Homo sapiens: one gene and its partners. The protein of the gene in region 1 purifies or fractionates together with the protein of each later gene. This does not show direct contact. Each region holds a gene or a part of one and is shown in the gene's direction. Other genes may lie near its edges.

What was found.
Region 2: the proteins of SLCO1B1 (region 1) and CTSB purify together in Homo sapiens (affinity purification with mass spectrometry; one large-scale study listed by BioGRID and IntAct). This does not show direct contact.
Region 3: the proteins of SLCO1B1 (region 1) and ATP11C purify together in Homo sapiens (affinity purification with mass spectrometry; one large-scale study listed by BioGRID and IntAct). This does not show direct contact.
Region 4: the proteins of SLCO1B1 (region 1) and ARF3 purify together in Homo sapiens (affinity purification with mass spectrometry; one large-scale study listed by BioGRID and IntAct). This does not show direct contact.

Annotation. Positions count from the first base shown.
Region 1 is NC_000012.12:21,127,182-21,135,820, forward strand, and holds the start of SLCO1B1 (solute carrier organic anion transporter family member 1B1), read left to right. Parts: upstream 1-4,012; 5' UTR 4,013-4,055; intron 4,056-8,639. UniProt on the Homo sapiens protein: Mediates the Na(+)-independent uptake of organic anions.
Region 2 is NC_000008.11:11,855,220-11,861,587, reverse strand, and holds part of CTSB (cathepsin B isoform 1 preproprotein), read left to right. Parts: intron 1-108; exon of another isoform or gene 109-227; intron 228-3,647; exon of another isoform or gene 3,648-3,730; intron 3,731-6,368. UniProt on the Homo sapiens protein: Thiol protease which is believed to participate in intracellular degradation and turnover of proteins. Cleaves matrix extracellular phosphoglycoprotein MEPE. Involved in the solubilization of cross-linked TG/thyroglobulin in the thyroid follicle lumen.
Region 3 is NC_000023.11:139,798,911-139,806,841, reverse strand, and holds part of ATP11C (phospholipid-transporting ATPase IG), read left to right. Parts: intron 1-2,242; coding exon 2,243-2,371; intron 2,372-4,502; coding exon 4,503-4,606; intron 4,607-6,731; coding exon 6,732-6,782; intron 6,783-7,931. UniProt on the Homo sapiens protein: Catalytic component of a P4-ATPase flippase complex which catalyzes the hydrolysis of ATP coupled to the transport of aminophospholipids, phosphatidylserines (PS) and phosphatidylethanolamines (PE), from the outer to the inner leaflet of the plasma membrane.
Region 4 is NC_000012.12:48,940,214-48,948,144, reverse strand, and holds part of ARF3 (ADP-ribosylation factor 3), read left to right. Parts: intron 1-6,956; 5' UTR 6,957-7,049; coding exon 7,050-7,197; intron 7,198-7,931.

The DNA of each region.
Region 1 (8,639 bases):
GAGTTAGAAGGCAAACCACAAAGGGTAGTGTCCTGCAAAGTTTTGCTTAGGGAGGGAATTCTCAGTTCTGAAAAATGCTGCTAATAGTTCAAGTCAGATGAGGACTATTAGATGTAGCATTTAGGTAATTTATGACTTAGGAAAAGTAGTTTCAGTGGAAATTTGGGGGCAAAAGCCTGATAAGAGTGTGCTCAAGAGAGAATGTAGAGAGAGAGATTGAAAGCAATAATTAGACAAGCTATTTCTCTGTAAAAATAGCACAGAAATAGGGCAATATTAGGAAAAAATGGGATCAAAAGAGAGATTTTTGGAAGATGAAAAAGTGACAGCATTCTTACATGCTGATGGAAACATTTAAAAAGAGGATAGTGCTATCCTTAAAAACACAAGGGGAGGAGTCAATGTCATATGCAAGTGGAGATTGGCCTTAGCTTAAACTTGGGTAGTTCACTAAGGCAGACCATGTGGTGGTACTGGGGCTTTACATAGATAAATGTGGTCAAGGGAGCTTTTGAAGTTTCTTCTTTATTTATTTATTTTTTCAGTAAAATAATTCATCAGCTGAAGGTGGGGAAGGGATGTATTAGAATTTCAAAAAAAAAAAAAAAAGATGAAGGCACAAAATGCTCAGAGTGCAAAATGGCGTGAATGATTTCTTGGCAAAATGAAAGGTCCATTTGGGCTTCCTAATCATACGTTTAAAGTCAGCATGGTTGAGAGATTTTCCTCAGTTACATTTAGCTTCATAAGGGAAATGTGCAGAGTTATTTGAGAGTTAAATTTAATCAAGATTGTGGCTTTGACATGCAATTAAAATAATGCAAAACAGTCAAAATTATATGAAGTTATATAGAAGAGAGTGATTACCGTGACCATTAAATTAACCCAGATGTATAGATAAGGAACACCGAAATCTCTGGCAAAATCAAATTGTAGGTTATACATCCTGGTCAGTGGAAGCATGTGGATCTAGGGTGTTACTGAGTGTGAGCTAGGAGTGATAAAGAGTGGTGCTCCAATCTTTGATATTATGGAGAGATTACAGTGGTGTGAAAAGCATAGGATATGCCCATAGCAGTAGGTAGAAGCCAAGATCATTGAGGAGAAGGCTAAAAAATAAAAAGAAAATAAAAAGAAAACAGAGAATTAAAAAGATTCTCTTCATGGTCATTACCATCATGAATAATTAAAATAGTAGTAGCATTTTGAGAGAATGGCTTTGGATCGAGAGCTAAAATTGTCATGAAATGAGTGGGAGTGACTGAGCGTTGATAGATGATTTCAACAAGAGGAATAAGTGATAGAGTCTTTCAATATGAGATCCAAAACTATGGATTATGAGTGTAAAGGGTGGGGAAATGTAAAGAAACTAGCAAAGTGAGGCACATTGGAAACCAGCCCATCTGGTTTGCAGCAATATGGGGGATAAGGCAACCCCTATGTATCACTGCTGCAGGAGAGGGAGTGTCTCAGGGAAGACCAATTTTTAAGTTCAAGGCAGAAGTGAAGCAGAATAACTCAGAGAAGAGGTAAAGGTAAGGGGAGTTTCAGTCATGACTAGTGATGGGTTCCAGAAAACTCAAGAGAAGAATTTCAGTCCAGGATTGGGAGAAAGAGAGAAGATGGGGGCAAACATAGGAATGTGCAGAGCCCTGTGGGGATTAGAGAAGAGGTGATGAGTCATCAGGGAATCCCTACCTTCTTATGGTGGTCACTACCATAAGAGCGATAATTGCCATGGTAATATTAGTCTTGATGATGCCAGAGCTTTGATCATTGGTGGGTATAGAAACATGTTTGGAGAATAATATGTAGAATAGGAGTTCTTTCCAGGAGAGTGTAGCTTTCTGGAGCTGTCTCTTAATCAGCACCAACAGAAGTGAAATGTTCGGGTAAGGGCGGATCTGCTTGGAGCCTGACGGTTCCCTCTTGAGGTGTGCCTGTGGTACACACCTGAGAACTCTGGGGCTAAAACCTATTGGACATAGGTTTTACAGATCTACAGGATACAGATCTCAGAGATTTTATTTGTATTCATTTAATATAAATTAACTGCTCTAAAATTTATAATATGCAAATATCATACAATTAATCTAATTAGGTGTTGAATCTATAATGTGCCAGGCATTATGTAAGGCACTTTACATACACTAAATCTTTATTCCAAATATAGACTTCTTACTTTATAGATGAGTGCACTGATGCTCAGAAATGGTAAATAACCTACTGATGTTTATACTGCTGGCAGGTAGCAGAGACATATCGGCATTTAAGTCTTTCAGACTTCAAAGGCCATGATATTTCATCAGAGCTGTGATAGCCGTTCCTGAAAAAAATATCAGCTGATTCTTTAAATCAATTTTTGTCATCTAACTGATGCGTGGCTGTTAGCATAATATTGATCTTGAAAGATGTTTTGCAACATCTTTCCCCTGGTGTACTCTTGTTTTTCCATGATCCCACAAAATGAGCAGTCTAATTATTTACACAATTAGGAAGAGAAAAGGGGCACAGAGAATGCTCTTTGACCTCTGAAAATATTGGAGAATTTTACAACTGGCACCTTTAGCTCAGGATTATAAAGGTTGTTAGTTAGTTTGTACTGTTTTATCTTCATTGTATATAATATATATATTAGTCTCCAAACATGTTGATGTGTTTTCAATGAAATGGATGTCTGAGGAGAAAACCATTAGCCTGAGAAAACCCAAACTGTATTCCCATTGTGAATAAAAGGAAGTCCATAAAAATGATGGAAAATGTTCTGCATTCCTGTTATGATATCAAAATCTGGCAGTACATGAAAATTTTTCAAAGTGCTTATTTAACAGGCATAATCTTTGGTCTCCTGAGCCAGAATCTGCTGGGTATGGGACTGGATTGCTATTTTGACAACTCGCCAGTAGATTCTTACTCAGCAGAGTATTTGGAAGCCTTACTCTAATATTTTGGCCTTGGGTCTACATTTCTCAGTTCTGCACAGTCATTCTTCCCCTCTACACTACTCTTTAGTTTGTCTCATGATTCCAATACTCTCAATAATTAACCAAGAATAGAACTAATCAATCAGATAACTGTGGCACAGACATCAAATACATTTTGCTGCAACCATATCAACAAATGTCCCATGAATGATAAGGGGTAACCATATTCTCATATATGCATCCTCACATTACCACATATATATATGTGCATATGTGTATACAGGTAAAAGTGTGTATATATGTATACATGTATGTTTGTGTGTATATACATACATATATCTTCACACTTTTCTGAAATATATATATTTATGTGAGAGAAGGGTCTGTACTTTATTTCAGAAGAGAGCTTAATGTCCAAGGTATAATTGAGAGTCTAAAATGTTTGAGTTATTGAATTAATTAAACTTCATCTCTACTCAAGAAAACTTTTAACTGAGTTAAGCTCTTCCTTTCTCCACAAGTCAAGTCAATAAAAGGAAACTGTGATATTAATAATTCTTTCCTGTTTTGATGTAAAGAATCTATCGCATAAAGCAGTCTTAATTTTCATCATTCAGAAAAATGGTCTTGCAGTTAATTGGGACTCTCTTATTCCAGGTGGTATCTCCAGTCTCCATACATACCACGTTAGAACCATACTTATGTACCAAGCAAAGAGGGTATATTTTAATTTTTAAATGCCAATGTAACCTGTAGGCATATTTTTTATTTGTCTTAAATTATTTCCTATTTGGAAGTTTTAAATACCTGGAATAATTTATTGTACTCATATTTTTAAAGAAAAAAATCTTATGCCACCAACTTAATTGAATAAACAAGTAAAAGCCATTCCCAAAAGTAAGGTTTACTTGTTAAGATTAACAAAAAATAATGTGAGAATTCTGAGAAATATAATCTTTAAATATTGGCAACTGGAGTGAACTCTTAAAACTAACTAGGTTTTATATGTTTGACTAGAGCAATGACATAATAAGGTGGTTAATCATCACTGGACTTGTTTTCAAAAAGCCAACTACTTTAAGAGGAATAAAGGGTGGACTTGTTGCAGTTGCTGTAGGATTCTAAATCCAGGTAAGAACCATTGAGATTCTCTAATTTTTACATATATTTTATGTAAGAAATTTTCACGGAAGAAGATTTTGATGGTCTTGAAAAATATTACGAATTTTATGCTCTGTGTCTTCCACACGCTTACATTCTGAGCCCTTAAAACATAGTAAATATTCCTTCTGGGAGTAGAAGAGCCTCAGGTTTATATACTGTTAAAAATAAAGTAGAGAAAATAATACCTTTATATATTTAAATATAAAGTTTCAAATCTTGGTCTTATTAATTTCCAAACAAATAAAAATCAAGTCTCAAAAATGAAGCTCTAGTTACCTTCTTAAAATATGCTACAGGATAATTATTTTTGTCAACTACATTGACTGATCACACTAGACTCCTTATTTCTTTGATGTCTTCTTAACTGGATGAAGGCAGCCAAGGGTGGGAGTAGAGGGAAGAGTTAATTGGCAAACATAAAAAACAGGTGTCTCAAAGTCACATAACCACCTCAGTTTCCTTGTTTCAACTCAAGTTTGATACAGGGTGAAGGGAAATATATTTTCTAGATAATTTATCTCCAATTAAATAAGCAAAAAGTCTTCTCAGTACAGTTTTTTTCTTTTTTTATTTCATTATTATTATACTTTAAGTTTTAGGGTACATGTGCACAACATGCAGGTTTGTTACATATGTATACATGTGCCATGTTGGTGTGCTGCACCCATTAACTCATCATTTAACATTGGGCATATCTCCTAATGCTATCCCTCCCCTCTCCCCCACCCCACAACAGTCCCCGGTGTGTGATGTTCCCTTTCCTGTGTCCATGTGTTCTCATTGTTCAGTTCCCACCTATGAGTGAGAACATGCGGTGTTTGGTTTTTTGTCCTTGCGATAGTTTGTTGAGAATGATGGTTTCCAGTTTCATCCATGTCCCTACAAAGGACATAAACTCATCATTTTTATGGCTGCATAGTATTCCATGGTGTATGTGTGCCACATTTTCTTAATCCACTCTATCGTTGTTGGACATTTAGGTTGGTTCCAAGTCTTTGCTACTGTGAATAGTGCCGCTATAAACATACGTGTGCATGTGTCTTTATAGCAGCATGATTTATAATCCCTTGGGTATATATCCACTTATGGGATGGCTGGGTCAAATGGTATTTCCAGTTCTAGATCCCTGAGGAATCGCCACACTGTCTTCCACAATGGTTGAACTAGTTTACAGTCCCACCAACAGTGTAAAAGTGTTCCTATTTCTCCACATCCTCTCCAGCACCTGTTGTTTCCTGACTTTTTAATGATCGCTATTCTAACTGGTGTGAGATAGTATCTCATTGTGGTTTTGATTTGCATTTCTCTGATGGCCAGTGATGATGAGCATTTTTTCACGTGTTTTTTGGCTGCATAAATGTCTTCTGTTGAGAAGTGTCTGTTCATGTCCTTCACCCACTTCTTGATGGGGTCGTTTGTCTTTTGTAAATTTGTTTGAGTTCATTGTAGATTTTGGGTATTAGCCTTTTGTCAGATGAGTAGGTTGCAAAAATTTTCTCCCATTCTGTAGGTTGCCTGTTCACTCTGATGGTAGTTTCTTTTGCTGTGCAGAAGCTCTTTAGTTTAATTATATCTCATTTGTCATTTTTGGCTTTTGTTGCCATTGCTTTTGGTGTTTTAGACATGAAGTCCTTGCCCATGCCTATGTCCTGAATGGTATTGCCTAGGTTTTCTTCTAGGGTTTTTATGGTTTTAGGTCTAACATTTAAGTCTTTAATCCATCTTGAATTAATTTTTGTGTAAGGTGTAAGGAAGGGATCCAGTTTCAGCTTTCTACATATGGCTTGCCAGTTTTCCCAGCATCATTTATTAAATAGGGAATCCTTTCCCCATTGCTTGTTTTTCTCAGGTTTGTCAAAGATCAGATAGTTGTAGATATGCGGCACTATTTCTGAGGGCTCTGTTCTGTTCCATTGGTCTATATCTCTGTTTTGGTACCAGTACCATGCTGTTTTGGTTACTGTAGCCTTGTAGTATAGTTTGAAGTCAGGTAGGGTGATGCCTCCAGCTTTGTTCTTTTCGCTTAGGATTGACTTGGTATGCGGGCTCTTTTTTGGTTCCATATGAACTTTAAAGTAGTTTTTTCCAATTCTGTGAAGAAAGTCATTGGTAGCTTGATGGGGATGGCATTGAATCTATAAATTACCTTGGACAGTATGGCCATTTTCATGATATTGATTCTTCCTGCCCATGAGCATGGAATGTTCTTCTATTTGTTCGTATCCTCTTTTATTTCATTGAGCAGTGGTTTGTAGTTCTCCTTGAAGAGGTCCTTCACATCCCTTGTAAGTTGGATTCCTAGGTATTTTATTCTCTTTGAAGCAATTGTGAATGGGAGTTCACTCATGATTTGGCTCTCTGTTTGTCTGTTATTGGTGTATAAGAATGCTTGTGATTTTTATACATTGATTTTGTATTCTGAGACTTTGCTGAAGTTGCTTATCAACTTGAGGAAATTTTGGGCTGAGATGATGGGGTTTTCTAGATATACAATCATGTGATCTGCAAACAGGGACAATTTGACTTCCTCTTTTCCTAATTGAATACCCTTTATTTTCTTCTCCTGCCTGATTGCCCTGGCCAGAACTTCCAACATTATGTTGAATAGGAGCAGTGAGAGAGGGCATCCCTGTCTTGTGCCCGTTTTCAAAGGGAATGCTTCCAGTTTTTGCCCATTCAGTATCATATTGGCTGCAGGTTTGTCATAGATAGCTCTTATTATTTTGAGATACATCCCATCAATACCTAATTTATTGAGAGTTTTTAGCATGAAGGGTTGTTGAATTTTGTCAAAGGCCTTTTCTGCATCTATTGAGATGATCATGTAGTTTTTGTCTTTGGTTCTGTTTATATGCTGGATTACATTTATTGATTTGCGTATGTTGAACCAGCCTTGCATCCCAGGGATGAATCCCACTTGGTCATGTTGGATAAGCTTTTTGATGTGCTGTTGGATTTGGTTTGCCAGTATTTTATTGAGGATTTTTGCATCAATGTTCATCAAGGATATTGGTCTAAAATTCTCTTTTTTTGTTGTTTCTCTGCCAGGCTTTGGTATCAGGATGATGCTGGCCTCATAAAATGAGTTAGGGAGGATTCCCTCTTTTTCTATTGATTGGAATAGTTTCAGAAGTATTGGTACCAGTTCCTCCTTGTACCTCTGGTAGAATTCGGCTGTGAATCCATCTGGTCCTGGACTTTTTTTTGTTGGTAAGCTATTGAGTATTGCCTCAATTTCAGAGCCTGTTATTGGTCTATTCAGAGATGCAACTTCTTCCTGGTTTAGTCTTGGGAGGATGTATGTGTCAAGGAATTTATCCATTTCTGCTAGATTTTCTAGTTTATTTGCCTAGAGGTGTTTATAGTATTCTCTGATGGTAGTTTGTATTTCTGTGGGATCGGTGGTTATATCCTCTTTATCATTTTTTATTGCATCTATTTGATTCTTCTCTGTTTTCTTCTTTATTAGTCTTGCTAGTGGTCTATCAATTTTGTTGATGCTTTCAAAAAACCAGCTCCTGGATTCATTAATTTTTTGAAGGGTTTTTTGTGTCTCTATTTCCTTCAGTTCTGCTCTGATGGTAGTTATTTCTTGCCTTCTGCTAGCTTTTGAATGTGTTTGCTCTTGCTTTTCTAGTTCTTTTAATTGTGATGTTGGGGTGTCAATTTTGGATCTTTCCTGCTTTCTCTTGTGGGCATTTAGTGCTATAAATTTCCCTCTACACACTGCTTTAAATGTGTCCCAGAGATTCTCGTATGTTGTGTGTTTGTTCTCATTGGTTTCAAAGAACATCTTTATTTATGCCTTCATTTCATTATGTACCCAGTAGTCATTCAGTAGCAGATTGTTCAGTTTCCATGCAGTTGAGCAGTTTTGAGTGAGTTTCTTAATCCTGAGTTCTAGTTTGATTGCGCTGTGGTCTGAGAAACAGTTTGTTATAATTTCTGTTCTTTTCCATTTGCTGAGGAGAGCTTTACTTCCAACTATGTGGTCAATTTCAGAGTAGGTGTGGTGTGGTGCTGAAAAGAATGTATATTCTGTTGATTTGGGGTGGAGAGTTCTGTAGATGTCTATTAGGTCCGCTTGGTGCAGAGCTGAGTTCAATTCCTGGGTATCCTTGTTAACTTTCTGTCTCATTGATCTGTCTAATGTTGACAGTGGGGTGTTAAAGTCTCCCATTATTATTGAGTGGAATTCTAAGTCTCTTTGTAGGTCACTAAGGACTTGCTTTATGAATCTGGGTGCTCCTGTATTGGGTGCATATATATTTAGGATAGTTAGCGCTTCTTGTTGAATTGATCCCTTTACCATTAGGTAATGGCCTTCTTTGTCTCTTTTGATCTTTGTTGGTATAAAGTCTGTTTTATCAGAGACTAGGATTGCAACCCCTGCCTTTTTTTGTTTTCCATTTGCTTGGTAGATCTTCCTCCATCCCTTTATTTTGAGCCTATGTGTGTCTCTGCATGTGAGATGGATTTCCTGACTACAGTGCACTGATTGGTCTTGACTCTTTATCCAATTTGCCAGTCTGTGTCTTTTAATTGCAGCAT
Region 2 (6,368 bases), on another chromosome or scaffold:
AACTGCTGAGGGCCTTCGTAGTGTCTGCTGTTTCAAGTGTACAGTAGTCATTTTGTCTGCAGGATGTGGGGTTGCTGTGGCTGACCTTGTACAATATTCCACTCATAGGTGTCTTCAGGCCTATGGAGAGCAGCTTGCGTGGGCTGGGCCTGCAGTACCTGGTTTGCATAGATGATTGGCAGGTGGGCAGCACGGGGAAGGACCTGTGAGTGGCCAACCTGGTTCAGGTGAGGGAGGTGGAGTGGGGCTTCTCTGCTTCCCCTGGTTCCCTGGAAGCCTCCAAGGCTGGTGAGCATCACTGCTGCCTCTGCACACCTGTGTGCTGGGTGGGTTTTCTGACAGGTTTTCAGTTGCTTCGGGGCTACAGCTGCAGGGAGCCTGCTCCATGGGACAGATGGGCCTCTGGTGCCCGTTCATCAGGGGACTGATGAGACCGAGGCCTGAGAGCCCTTTGGATTTTGTTTTTGTCCTTAATTTAATCATAAGCCAAGAATCTACTAAACACAGTTCCATTAGGGGCAAAGACGTAACACATCAGAGGCCACAGCAAGGCTGTGATTCATACTCAAAAAGGAAAGGTCTCTGGGTCACAACAGAGCATAGTTGAGGTCAGCACACTCCCACCCAGTGCAGGGCTGCTCCAGCATTGAGGTGTGTCTGGCAGGTTGAAGTAGGGGAAGATGAAACTCGCCGAAGTCTTGTTTTGTGGTTGCACTTAAGTGGTCAAAACTTCAGGAGCAACTGCCGTTATTAGCGGTGAGTGCCAAGACTAGTTTTTATAGAAGAGAAAGAAACAAAGTACTCTGGGAAGGTCTTACTGAGCCTTCACAGTCTCCCCACCTTTCCACTGTTCCCGTGCTCTTAGCCGCTCTGCTGGCCTATAAGGCACAGTCTTCATTTGTGGCTTCTGGCAAAATGTAAGCACTTGACTTTTGTTTTTGTTTTGTTTTGTTTTGTTTTTTTGAGACGGAGTTTCCCTCTTGTTGCCCAAGGTGGAGTGCAATGGTGCGATCTCAGCCCACTGCAGCCTCCACCTCCTGGGTTCAAGCAATTGTCCTGCTTCAGCCTCCCGAGTAGTTGGGATTATAGGTGCACAACCACCACGCCTGGCTAATTTTTTGTATTTTTAGTAGAAATGGGATTTCACCATGTTAGCCAGGCTGGTCTCGAACTCCTGACCTCAGGTGATCCACCTCCTTGGCCTCCCAAAGTGCTGGGATTACAGGTGTGTGCCACTGTGCCCGGCCAACTTTCAATTCTTTAGAGCTGACTATGAGAGGAGCCAGCAGTATAGCCACAGCACCAACGAATGAGGAAGAGCAAAATACTGCATGACAGCTTTGCTAAGAATTCTTTCACTTTTTTTGTCTATCAGCCAGGAGCTAGCAACTTGGCTTATTTGGAAATTTTAAGTGTACATATCCTGTCTCCTTAAATCCTTTACAGATTTAAAGTGCAGTCTACCTGAGGGCTCTGTGACCATGTAAGAAAGCTTTTTCTTTCTTTTTTTTTCTCTGAGACAGAGTGTTGCTCTGTCGCCCAGGCTGGAGTGCAGTGGTGTGATCTTGGCTCACTGCAACCTCTGCCTCCTGGGTTCAAGCAATTTTCCTGCCTCAGCTTCCTGAGTAGCTGGGACTACAGGCAGCACCACCATGCCCGGCTGAGTTTTGTATTTTTAGTAGAGACAGGGTTTCACCATGTTGGCCAGGCTGGTCTTGAACTCCTGACCTCGTGATCCGCCTGCCTCAGCCTCCCAAAGTGCTGGGATTACATGCGTGAGCCATTGTGTCCGGCCTTTTTTTTTTTTTTTTTTTTTTTTTGAGACAGAGTCTCGCTCTGTTGCCCAGGCTGGAGTGCAGTGGTGTGACCTCAGCTTACTGCAACCTCCGCTTCCTGGATTCAAGTGATTCTCCTGCCTCAGCCTCCCAAGTAGGTGGGATTACAGGCACCCACCACCGTGCCTGGCTAATTTTTGTATTTTTAGTAGAGACAGGAGTTTCACCTTGTTTAGTAGAGACAGGCTGGTCTCGAACTCCTGACCTCAGGTGATCCGCCTGCCTTGACCTCCCAAAGCGCTGGGATTACAGGCATGAGCCACTGTGCCTGGCCAGAAAGCCTTCTTTATTGAGCTTGGTGGCAGCCCAAAACTGATTCTTTAAGGGTGTCAGGACTTAACACCTCCTGTGACTTAGCCGCACCTCCTCTCCTTTGACTTTCATTCCACCTCCTTCCAGGATCGCAAGGTCCCTATTTGTCCTGGAAACGGCTTCAAGGTAGTCTAGGGTGCCGTTTGCCGGGGGAGGAAGGTGCTCTGGTTGATAGAGTCGCCTGGCCGCACACTCTTTTTGGCACATAACAACGTTCTACAGAGCCGGGGTGGAGCGTGCTTTCTCATAAGTGCTCTGCAGGTTTGGAGAGAGAGGATATGAGGAGCACCCTTTTCTGTTTTTTTTAACCCAAAGATTAGCTTGGAAAAGGGGCAGAGGGGTGCACTGGAACTCAGGTCTGCCTAAGCAGCACAGCAGACCAAGGTCTAGAGATGACATCTGCTCGCAGCTGTTCTTCCACCAGCCCGCATCCTGGAAAGGGGTCTTGTGGCACACAAGAGTTCACATCCTTCCCTCGTGAAATAAGGACTTTGTGTTCATCATCTCTTGTAAGAAGCAGAGCAGAAAGCACAGAATTAAGAAATAAAAGGGAAGTGGGTGCCTATATAAAGGGAAGTGAAAATGGGTTGCTGTCCCATGCAAAGACCCTGGAAAGCTGTTAACAGCTCAGCTTGTCACTTTCACCATCTGCATTTGTCCAGAGTGATTGAGATTTGCGTTGTTGTGGAGAGAAAGGCGCCTGTTGCACAATGGAGTGAGATTGCCACTGCTGTCAGGACCTCTGTGTTTGGCTTGACACTTTTTGAGTTCTCAGCAGTCTCGGGACCCTCAAGAGTGGAAGCATTTTTGGATGTTAAATGCTGGGGTTAATTGAAGTTAAGAGCTTGTTTTACTGGGCATGGTGGCTCACACCTATAATCCCGACACTTTGGGAGGCCAAGGCGGGCAGATCACTTGAGTCCAGGAGTTTGAGACCAGCCTGGGCAACATAGCAAAACCCCATCTCTACAAAAAATACAAAGCTGGGCGTAGTGGTGTATGCCTGTAGTCCCAGCTCCTTAGGAGGCTGAGGGGAGCAGATCTCTTGAGCCCAGGAGGCAGAGTTTGCAGTGAGCCATGATCGTGCCACTGCACTCCAGCCTGGGCAACAGAGTGAGATCCTGTCTTAAAACAAACAAAAAAAACAAACTTGTTTTCATTTAGACTCTTCCTGGCGTTGGGGACCTATTGGAATAGGTTTAGTGTGAACTGAGAGCTAGAAGTGTTAGAGGAGAGAGGGAGGGAACAGAGCCCGCTGGAGCGAGTGCCCTTCCTACCTTATCACTGCATGCCAGGCATGTGCCGGCGCTTTGGTCCTCCTCATTTCATTCTTGACTGCCACCTGAGACACGATGGTTACTAGCTCCATTTTATAGGTGGTGAAACTGAGGCTTGGGGAAGGTCAGACCCCAAGGGTGCCATTTAGTCAGTGGCAGAGCCAGATCCAAATGCAGGTCTCCTGACTCCAAGTGCAGGGCTCATTTTATCGTCCGGTTGCAGCACGCTGGCGGCCCCTTGAGCCCCAACCTGGATACCATAGGGGAGGAGCAGAGAAGCCAGGAACACCACAGCCCTGGGCCAAGGTGCGGGGCTGAAAGAACTTCCCAGCGCTCAGCCTGGGACTAGTGGAATGGGCTGGGCCCTGGGGCTGGCAGCGGTGGCCCCGGGGAGCCTGGGAATGAGTAGGGAGCACAGGGAGGTGTGGGAGGGCCTGGGAACCATGAAAAGGAGGGCGGGTGCAGGGAAGTCGCCTGCTAGTGAAGTGGCGAGGGGGCCCTGTGGGACTCCAGGGAATGGCCACGGCAGGTTGTCCTCCAGGAGTTGAGAGCCACTGGACATGGCAGCTGCCTGTGTTCTCAGCCACCACAGTAACCAAAGAAATCTTGGTTTTAAAATTCAAGTTGCCATGGAAACGCTCCCATCCTCGACTTGGCTTATTATTTAAAATAACATCTCTACAGCACAAAGCCCCCGGGTACATCCAAGGACACTGCTGTCTGCCCACGAGACATGCTAACCTCACAGTGTGGAGGCTGTGTGGGTCACTGACATGCATGGCCACGTGAGACGCTGCCTACCCACGAGTCACGGAAAAGGGGAAGATTATTAAGAAAGTCACTAGGGGCCAGGTCCAGTGGCTCATGCCTGTAATCCTAGCACTTTGGGAAGCTGAGGCAGTTAGATCCCTTGAAGCCAGGAGTTCAAGACCAGCCTGGCCAACATAACGAAACACGGACTATACTACAAAAATTAGCCAAACGTGGTAGCACAGGCCTGTAATCCCAGCTACTCAGGAGGCTGAGGCACAAGAATCACTTGAACCTGGGAGGTAGAGGTTTCAGTGAGCCAAGATTGCGCCACTGTACTCCAGCATGTGCCACAGAGCGAGACTCCCATCTCAAAGTCACTAGGGAGGAAGCCTCATTGGTGGGAAGGAAGACCAAATTGGAAATGCTCTGAGGAATCATTAAAACAAATGTCCTTTTATCAGTTTGGTGGCTCAGGGCCTTTAGTAATACTGCCAACTATTTTTCCTAGAAGAAACAAAACTGAAATAATAGGAACATACTCACTTTTTTTTTTTTCTTAAAAGTAAGGGTATGTTGTGAAAAAAAGTCTCCCCACCGTAGTGACCGACTGCCGTGCATCTTCCTTGGCATTTTGCATGTAGTGGCAGGAGTGTTCCTACATGTGTAGATTGCTGAGAGGGTCAGATGCTTATGGTCCTCAGTCACCCACAGCTTGCTTTTTCCCCACTTAACATTGGGACTTGGGGCATTTTTACTCTGTTAATACAATAGAATTCACTTCAACTAGTTGGTTTTTTACTTTTATTTTATTATTATTATTTTTAGATGAAGTCTCAATCTGTCGTCCAGGCTGGAGTGCAGCCTCTGCCTCCTGGGTTCAAGTGATTCTACTGCCTCAGCCTCCCAAGTAGCTGGGATTACAGGCATGCGCCACCACGCCTGGCTAATTTTTTGTATTTAGTAGATACAGGGTTTCACCACCTTAGTCAGGCTGGTCTCTAACTCCTGACCTCAGGTGATCCAACCGCCTCGGCTACAGGCATGCGCCACCGTGCCCCACCAACTAATTGCTTTTTTAATGGTTGCTTCATATTCTATTTAACCACTTACCGTAATTTAACAGTTACTCTGTTATTGGATACTTGATTCATTTCCAGGACATGCAGATTTAGAAACTGGTGGGCGTTGCTGGTTGATGTCTCGGTGGTTGTGCCCACCCACCCCAGGCACTCATTATCATGCCTTCCGTTTCCCCACTTCCTAAGCCCTGCAAGAAGTGCCAAACTGTCCAGCCCTTGCCAATCTGATACATGCTGAATACCTCCTTGATTTTATCTGCACCTCCCTGAGGTTGAACTTATTTTACTTTATTTTATTTTATTTTTGAGGCAGAGTCTCACTGTCACCCAGGCAGGAATGCAGTGGTGAAATCTTGGCTCACTGCAATCTCCACCTCCTGGGTTCAAGTGAGTTGAAGCAATTCTCCTGTCTCAGCCTCCCAAGTAGCTGCGATTACAGGCACCTGCCACCACACCTGGGTAATTTTTGTATTTTTAGTGGAGACGGGGTTTCACCATGTTGGCCAGGCTGGTCTCAAACTCCTGACCTCAGGCGATCCACCTGCCTCAGCCTCCCAAAGTGCTGAGATTACAAGCTTGAGCCACCATGCCGGTTGAACTTATTTTTATCTGTGTTGGCCATTTGTAGTTTTTCTATTATGCTGGTTCCATTTTTCTGACTTTGAAGAGCCTTTTGTGGAAACGAAGCCTAAAGTATATGTGAGTACTGCTTTGTTTCGTCAGTTTTTGTTTTAAAGAGACTTTTCAGTGTAATGCAAGCATTTTCCCTTGAAGGCTGTGTTTCCTGTCAATCCTAAGCTTTCCTCCAGCATTACCTTTTTAAAAAACTTTATTTTCTATATTGATGGGGTCTCACAATGTTGTCCAGGCTGGTGTTGAACACCTGGCCTCAAGTGATCCACTTGCCTTGGCCTCCCAAAGTACTGGGATTATAGGCATCAGCCACCGCACCCAGCCTGTTTTTCAAAGGGCATTGATTTTTTTCATAAAACTTTTTAAATTAAGATCTGTGGGCCTGGTGCGGTGCCTCACGCCTGTCATCGCAGCACTTTGGGAGGCTGAGTCAGGTGGATCACGAGGTCAGGCGTTCGAGACCAGCCTGGCCAAAATGG
Region 3 (7,931 bases), on another chromosome or scaffold:
TGACATTTGCTTAATATGAGAAAGGGGTCTATGATTCTGGCATGGTTTTTTTGTGCCTATTTCTTCACAGCAGTCACCACCTGTATGCCCGTGCCAGTGAGAAAGGTTCTTTTAGGTCTCCTGCCTGTATGCTTTCTCATGAACACTCAGTAGAAGCCTCTAGAGAAGAGCTGGTGAATGGTTGTGGTCTCTTCTTGTCTCTCAGGCTTGTAGAGATTCTGAACTGTCATACTAGCTCACACCCAGTCTTTAGGAATTGGTTAAAAATCTAGTTGTTTTCTTCTTACCCACTTTCATGGTAGCCATCTCTTCCTTCTATGCTTGGTCAGTTATGAAACAGTTCATCTGTCCTGTCTCTCCTCAGAAACACTTGTTACCCTTTGAAATTCAGTTCACTTGGTTGCTTTGCAACCTCAGCTCTCTGATGGACTAAAAAATACGTATTTGTTTTTAGATTATCCATTTTTTCCTAATGTTTGTAATGGGAGGTGGTGATGTTCTCTTGTGGCTTTTAAAATGGTAAATAGACCTCTAGAGTTCATTGTCTAACTAGATCATGTTATTCCCTGTCTTTAAAAGTCCTGTACCTATCCTTTTACCTTTAGAGTGAGGCCTAAATCCCTTAGGCTGGCCTGCTAAGCCCTTTGTGATCTGACTCATACCCATCTTGTCAGTCTGAGCTTGCACTGCAGATATAGGGGCCTTTATATTTCATATCTGACTACATCCTAACTGTTGAAAAAATGCTCTCTTTGTGTGTTTTATTTATCAATGCCTGAGAGTCATCTTCCGACCTCTAATGGGTATCTCCTTCTTGTAAGATGTGTTAGGATTCTGTTTGTTATCTCTCTTCTGCATATTTAAGCATAAATTGTGGTTTTGTGTAAGCAACATAAGTGTTTATGTAAGTGAGGAAGGAACAATCCAACAAAATAAAATATTATTTACAAGTTAGTTCAATTATTGATGCTGTTGATCTTGGCTAGTGATTAAGATTGGCAAAGAAAATAAAATTCTTCCTGAATAGGTCTTGAAATCCTCATCTTTATCTGCCGAATCATATTGCAAATAGAAGTTGGGTGTTGCATGTATTACCTAGCATTTCACAGTCAGTGTGTCTAGGTCAGTGTGCCAAATATTGACTCCCTTCTAAAGTGGGTTATCTTCTGCATCCAGCAGCCTCTTCCCTTTACCTGAAGGTGCTGTACAAAAGTATTATTTATAATTTTCAATATGTACCATGGTGTGAAAATCTTGGGAAGGACCAGACTGGAGGATTTCTTATATCTTTCCAAAAAAATGTTATGACTCTTCATAAGTTGGGAGTAAAGTAGTTGCAGGATGTTAGTAATAATTATAATTAACACCTTTGAAGTAGTTAATATGTGCCAGGCACTTTGCTCAGTACTTTTCTTGTATCATCATTTCATGCTCACATTAATTCTCTGAGGTAGTTGCAATCGTCTAAGACACTTATTTAAGGTCATATAGTTAAGTGGCAGAGCTGGGATGAGAAGTCAGGTTAAAGAGTCCAAACTTTTAATGGTTATGATTTACTTAACCCTACATTATTAAATTATTCATGATTTCTTCTCTCAGGTTTTTCCTTTCCTTGAGCTTTGGGTACTTGCTGATAAGAAATTGTTTCTCATTGCTATATTAAGTGATTCTCCTGACAGCAGATGAATTCATAGAAAGTGACCTATAGAAAAAAAAAATTCAAATATTTTGGGAAAAATCAATGCCTCTCTAATTAACTGGGATTTTCTGAGCACTGAAGAAGGACCTGGCACCCAACAACACAGTTGTTACCACATGGCAGGCAAAGTATGTTGAAGTATGCGTGGTACAGAGTGGGAGTGTGGCTGTTCAGTGTTCATGAAGTGCCCAGTTTGTGACATGTTGTAGATTTTCTTGATTCATTCATGAAGTGATAATGTCATTGTCTTATCAAACATTTGTGCAAGAAATATCAGAGAGCAAACGGATGTCAGAATCATTTATTAAAGGTAAAGGTCAGTGCTAAGGTAATCTGAAAGCATCCTAAGTCCTTCTAACCTTAAAGAGGATTCTGAATATTGAGTAATATTCTTTCATCACCTTTCACATGATGTAGGATGCTGAGATACTCTCAAAGCCCCAGAGCTAGAGATAATCTCTTGCTAATGTTTTGACTTTTGTATGAGTGTAATGAATGCTTTGTTTGGAATTTAAAATATTTATATTTATTTCTCAATTCCAGGTTGGTGATGTAGTAGAAGTACAGGCAGATGAAACCTTTCCCTGTGATCTTATTCTTCTATCATCTTGCACCACTGATGGAACCTGTTATGTCACTACAGCCAGTCTTGATGGGGAATCCAATTGCAAGGTAACAGACTAAACCTTGCCTAAACATTTTGATCTCAGGATAGTTAATCATACAATACTGCCTCCCATCACCCTCTAATCTTTTATTTTTTCTTATTTTTATTTTTTCTTAGGTTTTATATTTGAAAAGAGCTGTTATGTAATTGTTTTTTAACTTCTAAGCAAACACTCGTGTTTGGGTAAAAGGGTGGTAATTACGTGTGGAAAAACTGAGCCCCAAGTAAAAGCTACCACAATTTTTATAGCACTGCTTGAATTTAATATTGACACAGCCTATTTAATATTTAGACTCTAAAATGGGAGTAATCATAGGCTTAAACTGTGTGACTATACAAATAACTTCATGTATGCTAACCTTACAATTTGATCTATTTTTTTCTAAAATGTATATTTTCATTAAAAATGTATATTCTTGGGATGTAGGAAACCCAACCTGGAGTAATTTGATTGCTATTTAAAAATAATACTTAGGGCTGGGTGCGGTGGCTCACGCCTGTAATCCTAGCACTTTGGGAGGCTGAGGTAGACGGATCATTTGAGTTCAGCAGTTCGAAACCAGCCTGGCCAACATGGTGAAACCCTGTCTCTACTAAAAATACAAAAAAATTAGCCGGGCATAGTGGTGGGCGCCTGTAATTCCAGCTACTCGGGAGGCTGAGGCAATAGAATTGCTTGAGCCCGGGAGATGGAGGTTGCAGTGAGCCAAGATCACGCCACTGCACTCCAGCCTAGGTGACAGGGTGAGTCTCCATCTCAAAAAAAAAAAAAAAAAAAAAAAAAAAAAAAGATAGGGTGTAGTTTGGAAAATGTTTGCTTTATAAGTAAGTTATAAAGCAACATTTTATGTACATATAACAAATTATAACTCATTTATAATTGCAAGTGACTTAAAGTAAATTTGGCCAAATGGGGGTAACTTATTTCCCTCATACACTTTCTGGCACAGTCGGTTTTCTTGGCCATGGTCCAGAGCTCCACAGGGCATGAAGATGTATCCTCTCTATGCTGCCTTTAAGGAGGGTTACTCATGTGGCTCACCTCTGGGTATGTCCTTGGAGGGCTCCTCTGTTTGTTTATTCCATCTGGAGTTGAGGACTACGACTCAGTATGTAAAAAAGAACCTTTACCTGTTGGATGACTAATTCTGTATTTCAAAAGCATGGTAATGACCTGCTTTTAACCTTTTCAAAAACAAAGTTATAATTTAGGGAATGTCAAGATATAAATCAAGAAATCTACATAAAGATTTCCTGATAGTGAAAAAGTTGTTTGGAGTAAGAAAACTTTCAGATAGTTTCTTTTTTCAGTTAAGTTGTTCTGATCAAATCAGCTAAAAGTACAGAGGTTTTCAAAATCAGGAGATAGTTTTAAATATAGTTCAGACATTGCCGTAATATTTCCCCCAAGATGACGACAACAGCTTTCCCTTCTGCCTAAGTGGTGCGCTCTTTGAGTCTGCTTTAACCCTTGTTTGATGATTTATAAGTGGGTTCATTGGCGCCTGCCTTGAGTTCTGGATGAATCAAGTGCATAATATACACTAGTAGAATATTCTAATTATCTGACTAATGCAAGACACGTCATCTCCCTGCCCCTTGTACAAAATGTATCCATATTGAACATTTTCAAGATCATTAATTAAGCTATTTGTGTAATGGAACTATTAATGATTTTTTTCTTGCTGTTGGCAAAATTTTAGCATTTTTGTGACCAAAAAGGTTATGTTCAATTCATATGTGTATATCTCCATTGCCATACACTATAGTGAGCAAAATAATAAGTCTCAGTTCTGTAAATAGGAAAAAAAATAAATGTATTAACTTTTTCACGTGGTTTTAGTTAATTATATGCATGTTGTGAATAGAATTCTCTCAGCTGTCCATGTCAAGAAGAGCTTTTAGGTTTTTAATTGTCTTTGAAACCCTCCTTGCGGCAGGTTATCTTTCTAATTATTTGTAATATATTTTCATAATAATACCATAAAACTTATTAGTGGGAAATGTTAATATTTGTTTATTCTGCCAAAGCCTCTTACTAAAACATAAACTAAATTTGTTTCTGAAATCAGTTGGGTGTATGATTATGAAAAGAAAGTTTTTTTGGTTTTCACTTTTTCTTCTGCTTTCAACTAGACACATTATGCAGTACGTGATACCATTGCACTGTGTACAGCAGAATCCATCGATACCCTCCGAGCAGCAATTGAATGTGAACAGCCTCAACCTGACCTCTACAAGTAAGAATCACCTGGTTTCATTTTACTTCTGTTTGTTGGCTCTGCTTCTCTTTGCTAATAGTATTGCAAAAGAAACACCCACCACTTACCAGCCTACTCTCATTTGTGTTTTTATGGGCGATTCCTTCCTTCTGGCAGAAAAATGAATCAAATCAGCCTTGTTCACTATCAACCCAGAATAAATCATTGTGGGCCCAGGTATCTTATGATTTTTCTTTTATTTTTATTACTTGTAAACATGGCCATATATCAAAATTTTAGATTATGTTACCCTGTAAGGCTGATCTATCAGACTGATGCAGTAACCAGTTAATTAAATAAAAAACAAATCCTTTTACATGCCATCTAACATTAAAGAGAGAAGGGGGATATCCTCTTCATGCAATTAGTAGGTTCTATCCTTTCTTAGAATGATCATGATGCACTAAAGATTGCAAATAGGCTCTTTCTTGTCCACAGTAAACAGTTAAGGGATGAGTACAATGGTGTAATTTCCTCTATTTTACTATACTTAGGCTCTCTGGAGTAGGTTTGCTGATTATTAGTCATTGTGGGTTGTCAAAAATTGGCGTTTGATTTCAAGACTGGTTAGTTGGGTTGATTAGAGCATAGTACTAATCAGGGTAGTGTAACAGGTTTTATCCCCACGTGGGCTAATTAATTTTATCCTATTCTACCGTTGCAGATGGCATCCATTACCCATCTTGTTAATGCATGCTGTTAGTCATAATGAGTGACCAAGTGGTTGGATGTGGTTTACACTAACACCTAGTAGTGGAAAAACAAAGTATTCATTCTACTTCAAGAACAATGACCTCCCTCCTTCTCATCACTTTTTCTTTCCTCTTTCCCTTCCTCTTCCGTATCCACCTTGATGATAGGAACTAGGGCCAAAAAGTGTAACAGTTATTCTCTACCTTCAAGGGACTCACTGTGAGCAAGAGATGAAGTAATAAAGCTAAGCTTATACAAGGTGATAATAGAGGTGAGTGTAAGGTCTATGGAATCACAGAAAAGGGAGTAACTTATTCTGCCTGAGCTAGAGAACAATATCTATACCCTTGCATATTTATAGGGAAATCCCCACATTTTTCAGTTGCTTTAAGTATGAAGGAGAATGATAGGACAGGGAAGGTTATTCCTTATTTCCTTAGACGATTGAATTCCTTGCTGTGTGACTTCGGAATACCTTGTACTTCTATCACTCTAGTGGTAAGCACTTGCGTCGTAATTGCCTATTTACTTTTATAGGGCAAGGAGCCATTTCTTTTTTGCTTATTAGTACATCTTCAGCACTTAGTATAGCACTGGCACAATTAATATATGATGAATGAATGAGCAAGCCTTCATATTTTGTGTATATGAGTAATATATATTTCTATTTTCTGGGGAAAATGCTGTTTACGATGCAGATTATAAAACACTGATGTTAACGAGGGATTAGGTATTTTTACCTTATTTTGCAGAAATACAGGTTACCATACACCTATTATATTAAGTGATTGGGTCAAGCTCAGTATTGAGATCAACTACAAGTCACAGGCTGGACATTTCCAAGATGGCATTCAAGTGTTCACTGTCTAAGACTAGTACTATGGTTTAAAGAGTGGTTTCAGGACCAGCAGCAGCAGCATTACTGGGGAACCTGAATCAGAAGCTCAGGGATGGGACCTAGAAATCTGTGGTTTAATTAGCGCTCCAGTGATTCTGATGCACACTCAAGTGTAAGAACTACTGAACTAGCGGTTTTGAAAATTGTATTTTAGCACCAGAAACCTTTCTTCACATGATCCAAGATAGAAGTTACGTTATTTATATAAACTTATAAAAGAGAGAGGTGTTGTGTGCATGCATGATGTTAAACAGAACTTGAAAATCAATTGAGAACCTTTGTTTCTGCTCCTATAATCCCATCATGTTATTTAAAAATTATATGAAAATGTTATACACCTTATCAATTCAACATAACTTTTTTTCCCCCAGAAATATAATAGGCTTTTGTAGTTCATTCACAGTTTTATCTATCTCTGTTTTATTATTTGTATTTTCATTCATTCTCATATTTCTGGTACATGGATTTCACCTGGATGTAGAAAACACATTTGCAATTTTGTTCTTTTTACAGATTTGTTGGGCGAATCAATATCTACAGTAATAGTCTTGAGGCTGTTGCCAGGTAAGTTTGCTGTTTCTTTAATTTGTCCTTTGGTTGGGGGGGGGGGTCTATTTTTCTGTTAAATCAACTAAAATAGCCAAATACCTTTCTATTATAGAAAGGAATATAGGCCGGGTGCGGTAGCTCACGCCTGTAATCCCAGCACTTTGGGAGGCTGAGGTGGGTGGATCACCTGAGGTCAGGAGTTTGAAGCCAGCCTGGCCAACGGGGTGAAACCCAATCTCTATTAAAAATACAAATTTAGCTGGGCGTGGTGGCACACATCTGTAATCCCAACTACTCAGGAGGCTGAGGCAGGAGAATCTCTTGAACCCGGGAGGCGAAGGTCGCAGTGAGCCAAGATTGAGCCATTGCACTGTACCCTGGGCAACAAGAGCAAGACTCCATCTCAAAAAAAAAAAAAAAAAAAAAAAAAGGAATATAAAGGTGAATAAGCAACTAACCTTGTGATTGGTAGAGTTGTGGTGATAGGGTCTCTGTGTTGTGGGGAGGGGGCTGTTAGAAGTAATGCTTATGGTTTCCAAAATAGCAGAGCTCCAGACATTTTGGATTATATTCCCAAACCTGTTCTAGCCATGTTATTTATTATCCTCGGTTGTGAAGTGGCTGACAACATTGGAATTATAACTGGAGAACAGTGGGAGAGTAATTGAGAAAGTAAGCAGTGGGTAAAATGCTGGAAGAACTACCTGGACTTACGTAAAATGAAAGGCTTCATTAAAACGAATTGTTTTATGTATACGAATTGTATGTATCAGCCTTCATACAATTTATCAAGCAGTTCATACAAAAAGGGATGCTTTCTTTCCTCTTCTATCATCATATTAATTACCGCAACTTTTCCACTTGGCCTTTACAGCCACACTCAAAAAGTTAAAGAAATACAGGGTCCCCAGTGATCCCCCAAAAGGAGGGTTTATTCTCTCCAAATATGTCAGTATATTTTTCCCACCTTGACGTTTGCATTCCCTGTCTTTTATTGATGGCTGTCTGCTTTTGTGTCTTGCGATCTGCTGCTCTGTTCTGTTCTCGTCTTGCTATCCATGATTCATAATCCTTTTATCCCCCCCCATGTATTTTTTTTGCCTATGTGTGTTGCTGGCTACTCCCGTACTGTGCTTCCATCTGTGCTGTACCCTCAAGTAACTT
Region 4 (7,931 bases), about 28 Mb from region 1:
CAGCCACAACTTCCTGGGCTCAGGTGATTCTCTTGTCTCAGCCTCCTGAGTAGTTGGGACTACAGGCGTGCACCACCACACCCAGCTTTTTTTTTTTTTTTTGTAGCGATGGGCTTTTGCCATGTTGCCCAGGCTGGCCTTGAACTCCTGGCCTCAGGCAATCTTCTTGCATCAGCCTCCCAAAGTGCTGGGATTACAGGTGTGTCCTGCTGTGCCTGGCTCAGTCTTTATGCCTTTGCACACACTTCCCCTGCCCAACTCCCTCTTTATTGTCTGATTACTTCCTCGTCTTCCTTTAGGAGCCAGCTCAGGTATGACCTGAGAATTAGGTTTCAGAATCACCCTTTACCCTTCAGTGTTGATTTACTGCTCCAGCTTTCTGTTCACATAATACTATGTGCTTTACTCTTACTCTCACACTGTTTTGTAGTCCTGTCTTCACTAGTCTTTTCCATTAAAGACTGAGTTTCATGAAGGCAGAAACTGTCTCCCTCTCTGTATCCCTAGTTCAGTATGCCCAATAAATGTTTGATGAATGAGGCCAGGCACGGTGGCCCACGCCTGTAATCCCAGCACTTTGGGGGGCAGAGGTGGGCAGATCACAAGGTCAGGAGATCAAGACCATCCTGGTTAACATGGTGAAATCCTGTCTCTACTAAAAATGCAAAAAATTAGCCAGGTGTGGTGGCATGCGCCTGTAGTCCCATCTACTCGGGAGGCTGAGGCAGGAGAATCGCTTGAACTTGGGAGGCGGAGGTTGCAGTGAGCCGAGATTGCGCCACTGCACCCCAGCCTGGGCGAGAGAGCGAGATTGTCTCAAAAAAAAAAAAAAAAAAAAAGTTTGATGAATGGATGAAAGCTGGTATCAGAAGCTATTTCTTAACTTTGGGAAATCTTTAAGTCTAGTCGAAATAGTTCAGATATCATCTAGGAGTTCTTATGTTCTGATTTCAGTGCTCTTGAGACAAAAACTTGGAGTTTACACAGGTCACGAGCCAGCTGCACCAAGAAAACTCAGTACGGGCGTACTCTGCTTTTGTTTCTTTAAATTGTATTGGTCTGTTTGGTTAGCTGTGCTAAAAATAGCATCTCTTAGTGATATTTCAATTTGAAAATTATCTAAGAACAAAGCTGTTTTTACTGCACTCTGCCTGGCAGCAGAGGGTTTGGGAGACCCTGGTCTTCCTTCCCCTGGACGCTGAAGAGGAGGAGGTAGTGCCAGATCAGGAGTCCCCTCAGAGGTGTCTCATAGCACATTCTTGGATCATTCACTGGAATCAGGTAGAGGGAGTATGTGTGGCCGACTGGGATGTGTGACTCTCAAAAGCACCTGGAGATTGAGGCAGGCACGTTCCTGCAACATATGTAAGGAAAGATGGCTGAGTAGCCAGTTACAGCAACAGCCTGCTTCTCCTGGGGGGATGAGGTGGGAGCAGTGAGTTGTCCTCAAGTGAGGATATCCTTAGATGAGGCTTAAATCAACTGATGTGCTTAACTGAATTCCTACAGTGTCCCACACAGATTGTACTAGAGCACATATTTGGGTTCCTATTGTTATTTTTACCTGTGATAATAAAGTTTCTGACTGTAAAACAGAACCTGCAGATATCTTTTTAACAGAGATGTTAGTATATTCCATTTTTCATCTTGAGCCACTCACTTTCAGTCTTAACTGCTTATTCTTGGTATCCAACAGCCAATGGAACCCTGGCATTTTGCCCTATAAACACAGGAGTACCATCTGTGGTGAAAGAGAGTAACTATAGGCTATATAATACATGGAGAAACAATTCATGGTTTGTTTGCTTTGCCATTCTGCTTCCTAGTGCTTTTTTAGGAATGTATTGTGAAAGTGAGAATAGGCTGTATAGCCAGAGATTTGTATTCATGGCACAAAGCAGAAAGCTGCTACCATCTTGGTGGTAGGGCAGCATGCTCTCTGGTATTAGCAAGGGACAGGGAAAACCAAGACAAGAAAGCCAGCATCCCCTTTGAAATGCTCATTTAAGTCAAGCTCCAGATTATACTTAAAGAAAAGTCATGGCCAGACGTGGTGGGTCGTGCCTGTAATCCCAGCACTTCAGGAGGCCAAGGCAGGTGGATTGCTTGAGGCCAGGAGTTTGAGACCAGCCTGGCCAGCATGGCAAAACCCCGTCTCTACTAAAAATATAAAAATTAGCAAGGCATGGTGGCACATGCCTGTAATCCCAGCTACTCGGGAGGCTGAGGCACAAGAATCACTTGAACTTGGGAGGCAGAAGTTGCAGTGAGCAACCTCTGCCTCTGCACTCCAGCCTGGGTGACAGAGCGAGACTGTCTCAAAAAAAATAAATAAATAAAGAGGAGGAGTCATAACATCCATTAGTTTCAAGGTCCTGGGCTGTGCCAGGGAGATACATGATAGCTACTGGATATTTATTTTTTGAGATGGAGTCTCAGTGTTACACAGGCTGGAGTGCAGTGGCGTGATCTCGGCTCACTGCAACCTCTGCTTCCTGGGTTCAAGCGATTCTCCTGCCTGAGCCTCTGGAGTAGCTGGTGCTACAAGCATGTACCACCACGCCCAGCTAATTTTTTTTTTTGAGACAGAGTCTTGCTGTTGTCTGCCCGGGCTGGAGTGTGATGGCATGATATCGACTCGCTGCAACCTCCACCTCCCAGGTTCCAGCAATTCTCCTGCCTCAGCCTCCCGAGTAGCCACCACACCCGGCTAATTTTTTTGTATTTTTAGCAGAGACAGGGTTTCACTGTATTAGCCAGGATGGTCTCGATCTCCTGACCTCGTGTTCCGCCCGCCTTGGCCTCCCAGAGTGCTGGGATTACAGGTGTGAGCCACCGCACCCGGCCAATTTTTGGGTTTTTAATAGAGACGGGGTTTCACCATGTTGGCCAGGCTGGTCTCGAACTCCTGACCTCAGGTGATCCACCCACCTCAGCCTCCCAAAGTGCTGGGATTACAGGCGTGAGCCACTGTGCCCGGCCTTTTTTTTTTTTTTTTTTTTTTAAGACAGAGTCTTCCTCTGTCAACCAGGCTGGAGTGCCAGCGGCATGATCTCAGCTCACTGTAACCTCTGCCTCCTGGATTCCAGCGGTTCTCCTGCCTCGGCTTCCTGAGTACAGGCGCGCACCACCATGCCCAGCTAATTTTTATATTTTTAATAGAGATGGGGCTTCACCATGTTGGCCAGGCTGGTGTCAAACTCCCAGCCTCAGGTGATACGCCCACCTCAGCCTCCCAAAGTGCTGGGATTACAGGCATGAGCCACCATGCCTGGCCAGCTATTTAGATATTTTATCAGTTATTCATCAGTCCCACTGTATATTAAATGGCAAGAGAGAATCCCACCAATTCTAGTCTTCTAGTCCTTTTATGTTGTTCCCAAACCAGTCCTGCGTCAAATATGTGTGGAAAATGGCTGAGAATGGACAGGATAGCTAAGCAACTCGCTGTGCATTACACAGAGATACCAAATCCTACTGGACAGAAGAAATAATATAAGGACATCCTCAGATGAGGCTTAAATCAGCCAATGTGCTTAATTGAACTCCCACAATCTACTTGGCACTAGAGGGAGGACAGATTCAAAATAAGTAGACATAGTCTTTGCACATAGGGAATACACAGCTTAACGTGGGAAGCAGTAAATACACAGACTTATAAAAGAAGAAAAACTCGACAAGGTAGTAAGTGCCACATTGAGTGGTTAAGGTCATTCAAAGTAAGGCCTTGATGTGGCATGCCAGGAAATAATAGGTGTAACACTGGGATCAGCTTTTGAACCAGGACTTCAGCATGACAGCCGAGCAAAGAAGCAAATCAAAGGACAGTGTACCTGTGTTCTGGGGCAAGGCATATTGGCTAGTTATATCTTTTTCAGCCACCACTATACTCACAGTTGGTAAGCATTTAATCAGCAATAGTTTCAGTCATAAAGGACAGCAAGATAAATGTGTGGCATAAATTTAATTCAGAATCTGGGCCAAAGCCTGATACCAAACCTTTAAAGCAAAGTGTCATCTGGAGCTGAAGGAAAGGCTGCCTGAGCAAGAGGCAGAATAAAGGCTAGAAGACTAGGAAGACTTGGGAAAGGTTTAAATTTCATGAGGTGTTAGTAGTATGACCAAAAGTCACTACTACAAATTGCCAAGGTTGGTGAGAGCTGTTCTTAGCTGGGTAGGTCGCTCAGGGGTCCTCAGGAGTCTGTCCACCTGGGTGGGTTGAGGCAGGAAGAGTAGGGAGGAAGGCTAGCGGGTGGCTTGACTGAAGTTGAACCCTAAGGTTGAGCTAGCCCTTCTTCCTGGTGTGTGAACCCTCTAGGTCAGGGGTAGGGCTCATCTGGGGAACCTACTGAGAGTGCCACGCCTGGCTCATTAGTGGCTGTCTGGGGAGGCCTTTTGAAGATGAAACACTTCATAAGCACTCATTGTTTCTGTTTTTTCGGACAAACTAGTACTTTGGTCTTCAGGGACTGTTGATCTGGCTCAGTTGCACTAGTCTGGAATTTGCTGCAAACTGAGAAGGGTGGTGGGGGAAATGTCAGAAGTTTTTGTAAAAACAACCAAACTCCCACCAAACCCCCATGCGTTAGCTTGTAAATAGGATTCCTCCCCGTCCACCTTTCACATTCTTGGGTTTGGGCGCACTTTGTCTTGACCTGTCCCTTTGGCTGCTGAGTTTGGGGTGTGTGTGTGTCTCTGGTTCCCAGACTCTAGAGAATGCCAGCAGCTGGCATATGGTGATTGCTGAATAAGCTGCCCGCTGACACATGCCTCCTGCAGGCACAGAGAACTGGTTTGTATGGGTGATTCTGAATCCTCATTTTATTATTGTTTCAAAGATGCATTTCTGTGGCTATCCTGTGCCATAGAGAAGAGAGGGAAGAAGAAAGGGAATGAATGAATGAATCTGATTCTGTCTGTTGGGGCAATGGCTGGGGTGAGCAGATAGACATTTTATACCTTCATAATGATTCTTTTGGTCCTGTTCATCCTTTCAGCAGGTATTTGTTGTTGTTATTACTATTATTATTATTATTTTGAGATGGATTCTCGCCCTGTCACCCAGGCTGGAGCGCAGTGGCGTGATCTCGGCTCACTGCAACCTCCACCTTCCAGGTTCAAGTGATTCTCCTGCCTCAACGTTCCGAGTAGCTGGGACTACAGGAGTGTGCCACCATGCCCGGCTAGTTTTTGTATTTTTAGTAGAGATGGGGTTTTACCATGTTGGCTAGGCTGTTCTCAAACTCCTGACCTCAGGTGATCCACCCGCCTGGGCCTCCCAAAGTGCTGGGATTACAGGCGTGAGCCACTGCGCTCGGCCTCAGCAGGTATTTGTTATGTGCCTACCATATGCCAGGCATAGCATCCAGTCTGAGTGAGCTTTCAGTAAAGTCAGTAGAGACCCTGGGGATTAGTTCAGTTTTTGAAGTACTGTGTGCTAGGCACTATTCTTGGTACTGGAGACAGAGCAGTGAACAAAACACATAAGGAGCTGATATCTTAGGCAGAATAAAACAATCAGCAAGAAATAAATATATAATGTATCAGATGGTGATAAATGTTGTGAAGAAAAGTAAAGTGGGATAAATGGGGTAGGGAGTGGTGTGTGTCTGTGTGTGTGTGTTATACATGTGGTTGTGGGAGGCCTCTTTGGTAGGTGACATTGAAACAGACAACTAACTGAAGGAGGTGAAGGAGTAATCTATGATGGTTATCTGGAAGAGAAGCATTCCAGGCAGAGGTGATAGCAAATATGAAAGCTTTGGGCCAGGCATGGTGGCTCATGCTTGTAATCCCAGTGCCCTGGGAGGCTAAGGCAGGAGGATTGCTTGAACCCAGGAGTTTGGGACCAGCCTGGGCAACACGGTAAGACCTCGCCTCTTTAAAAAAAAAAAAAAAAAGCTTTGAGGCAGGAAAGGAAAGTGTTGGGGAATTGGAGTGGAGTAAGCAAAGAGAGAGTAGTAGATCTCATGAGAGAAGTAGGGGAGTGTAGGTCTTGTAGGACCTTGTAAGCCATGGTTTGGGCCTTGGGTTTTACTGAAAAGGAGCTATGAAGCCACGAGTGGGTTTTGAACAAAGGACTCATATGACCTGAGTTTGGTTTTAAAACCACCCTAGATGCTATATGGAGAATAGGCCGAAAGGCTTAGGGAAGAAGCAGAGAACCAATGAGATGACTGCCTCATTGCAGCGACCATGTGGGACAGCCCCCTCCTTGGATGGGCCACAGTAAGCCAAGGATGCACCTAGCTGAGGAGTAAAGGGGTAGCCCCGCCATACCCCACCTCTCTACTGCCAGTGCACTGTTGTTTGAACAGGGCACAACATTAGCAGCTGGCATTCCACAGAGTGTAAAGGATCGGCTTCTTTTAAGAGTGCGGCTTTCTTATTCCTCCTTTATTTTGGTGTGGAAGAAAGATGGAGTTGCAAAAATATAGGAAGGGAAGAGGCAGAGTCTCTTGATTAAAGGAGAAAGCATAAACCTTGGGAAACTGGCAAGCCTGAACCTTGTCAGGAGTCACAGAGAGCCACTCCTTATTCCGCTCCCTCCTCTCCCACCCTTGCCAGAAGTCTCAGGGTAAGTAAGGTTAGGGGAGGGAGGGGCATTAATGATCTTACAATGCCTTTGGGTATAGGGTAGAATGTCAGAACTGAAGGGACTTCAGAAATCATCTAGTTCAATCCCCCTTCCATTTACAGGTGCAGATATGGAAAAGTGAAGTAACTTGCCCAGAGTCACATGGTTAGATTACTGGCAGAGCAGGGATCCTTAGTGTTTACTGCTTTGTCTCTGTTCCCAAAGACTCAGTATGTATCTGAGTGGGCCTTGGTATTTATAGTCCCCTCAGGCTCTCCGTTTGTCATGAATGAACTCTAGCCATGACCTTGGGAAATTCTATTTACTTGGAAGTCCTGACAAGCAAATGATGGTATGATTTTACATTTCCTTTGTCTAGGATCAAGTCTTCCATACCAGGGACCAGGCCAAAACCAGACTGCCACTGCCCCTACTTGGGCCCCACTGTCCCCAGAAAGCAGCTGCTGTGATCATGGGCAATATCTTTGGAAACCTTCTCAAGAGCCTGATTGGGAAGAAGGAGATGCGCATCCTGATGGTGGGCCTGGATGCCGCAGGAAAGACCACCATCCTATACAAGCTGAAACTCGGGGAGATCGTCACCACCATCCCTACCATTGGTAAGAGCACAGCTTGGATGTGGGCTTTCACGCCGGCAGCTGAGGCAGGGCAGGGACCTATTCCTGGTTCCCCAACCTGGCCTCTTCTCCCCAGGCAAGTCCATACAATTTGTGGGGTTCAGAAAAGAGGGTGGTGTTGTTTAGCTTACTACCAGGTGCTGAGGCTGCTGTTTGCCCACCTAACCTGGCTCTCCCTGATGCGGGAACTTCCATGGCCTGGCACTCAACAGCTGCCCTCAGGCACGGAGTTGGTTTCTTCTCTGTGTTGTTTGGAAAGCAGGTAAAAGGCTTTGATGTTCCTGCCAAAGGCTTGGAATTACTTGGGTTTAGATCTTTGGTGGCCAATCTTGGTTACAGTTTGCTGAAGGGAGGTCTCCCTACATTTGCTATGTAGATGGGGGCTCCAGTCAGCATTGTCAGCTGGCTCTGCCTTTGGGGCTCCAGGATGCCAGCTTACTTCCCTTTCTTCACTCTGCCTCTCAGGCCCCACATCTTAGCTGAGGCCGACTCTGGTAGCCAAAGTACCAGAGCAGGGCTGAGTCATTTTGTAGGAGGGAGCACCAAAGACTGAGTGGAAAAGTCAGGAAAGTTGGCCCACGTTACCCAGGCAACTGTGAACCTCTCAACCAACTTCCTCATCCTCTTTGACTTCTCTTAGGTTTTCATTTTGGCCTTCAGGCTGCTAGCTTAACGATTATCAGGTCTGAGGAAGCCTTAGCTTTTGTTCCATTGTT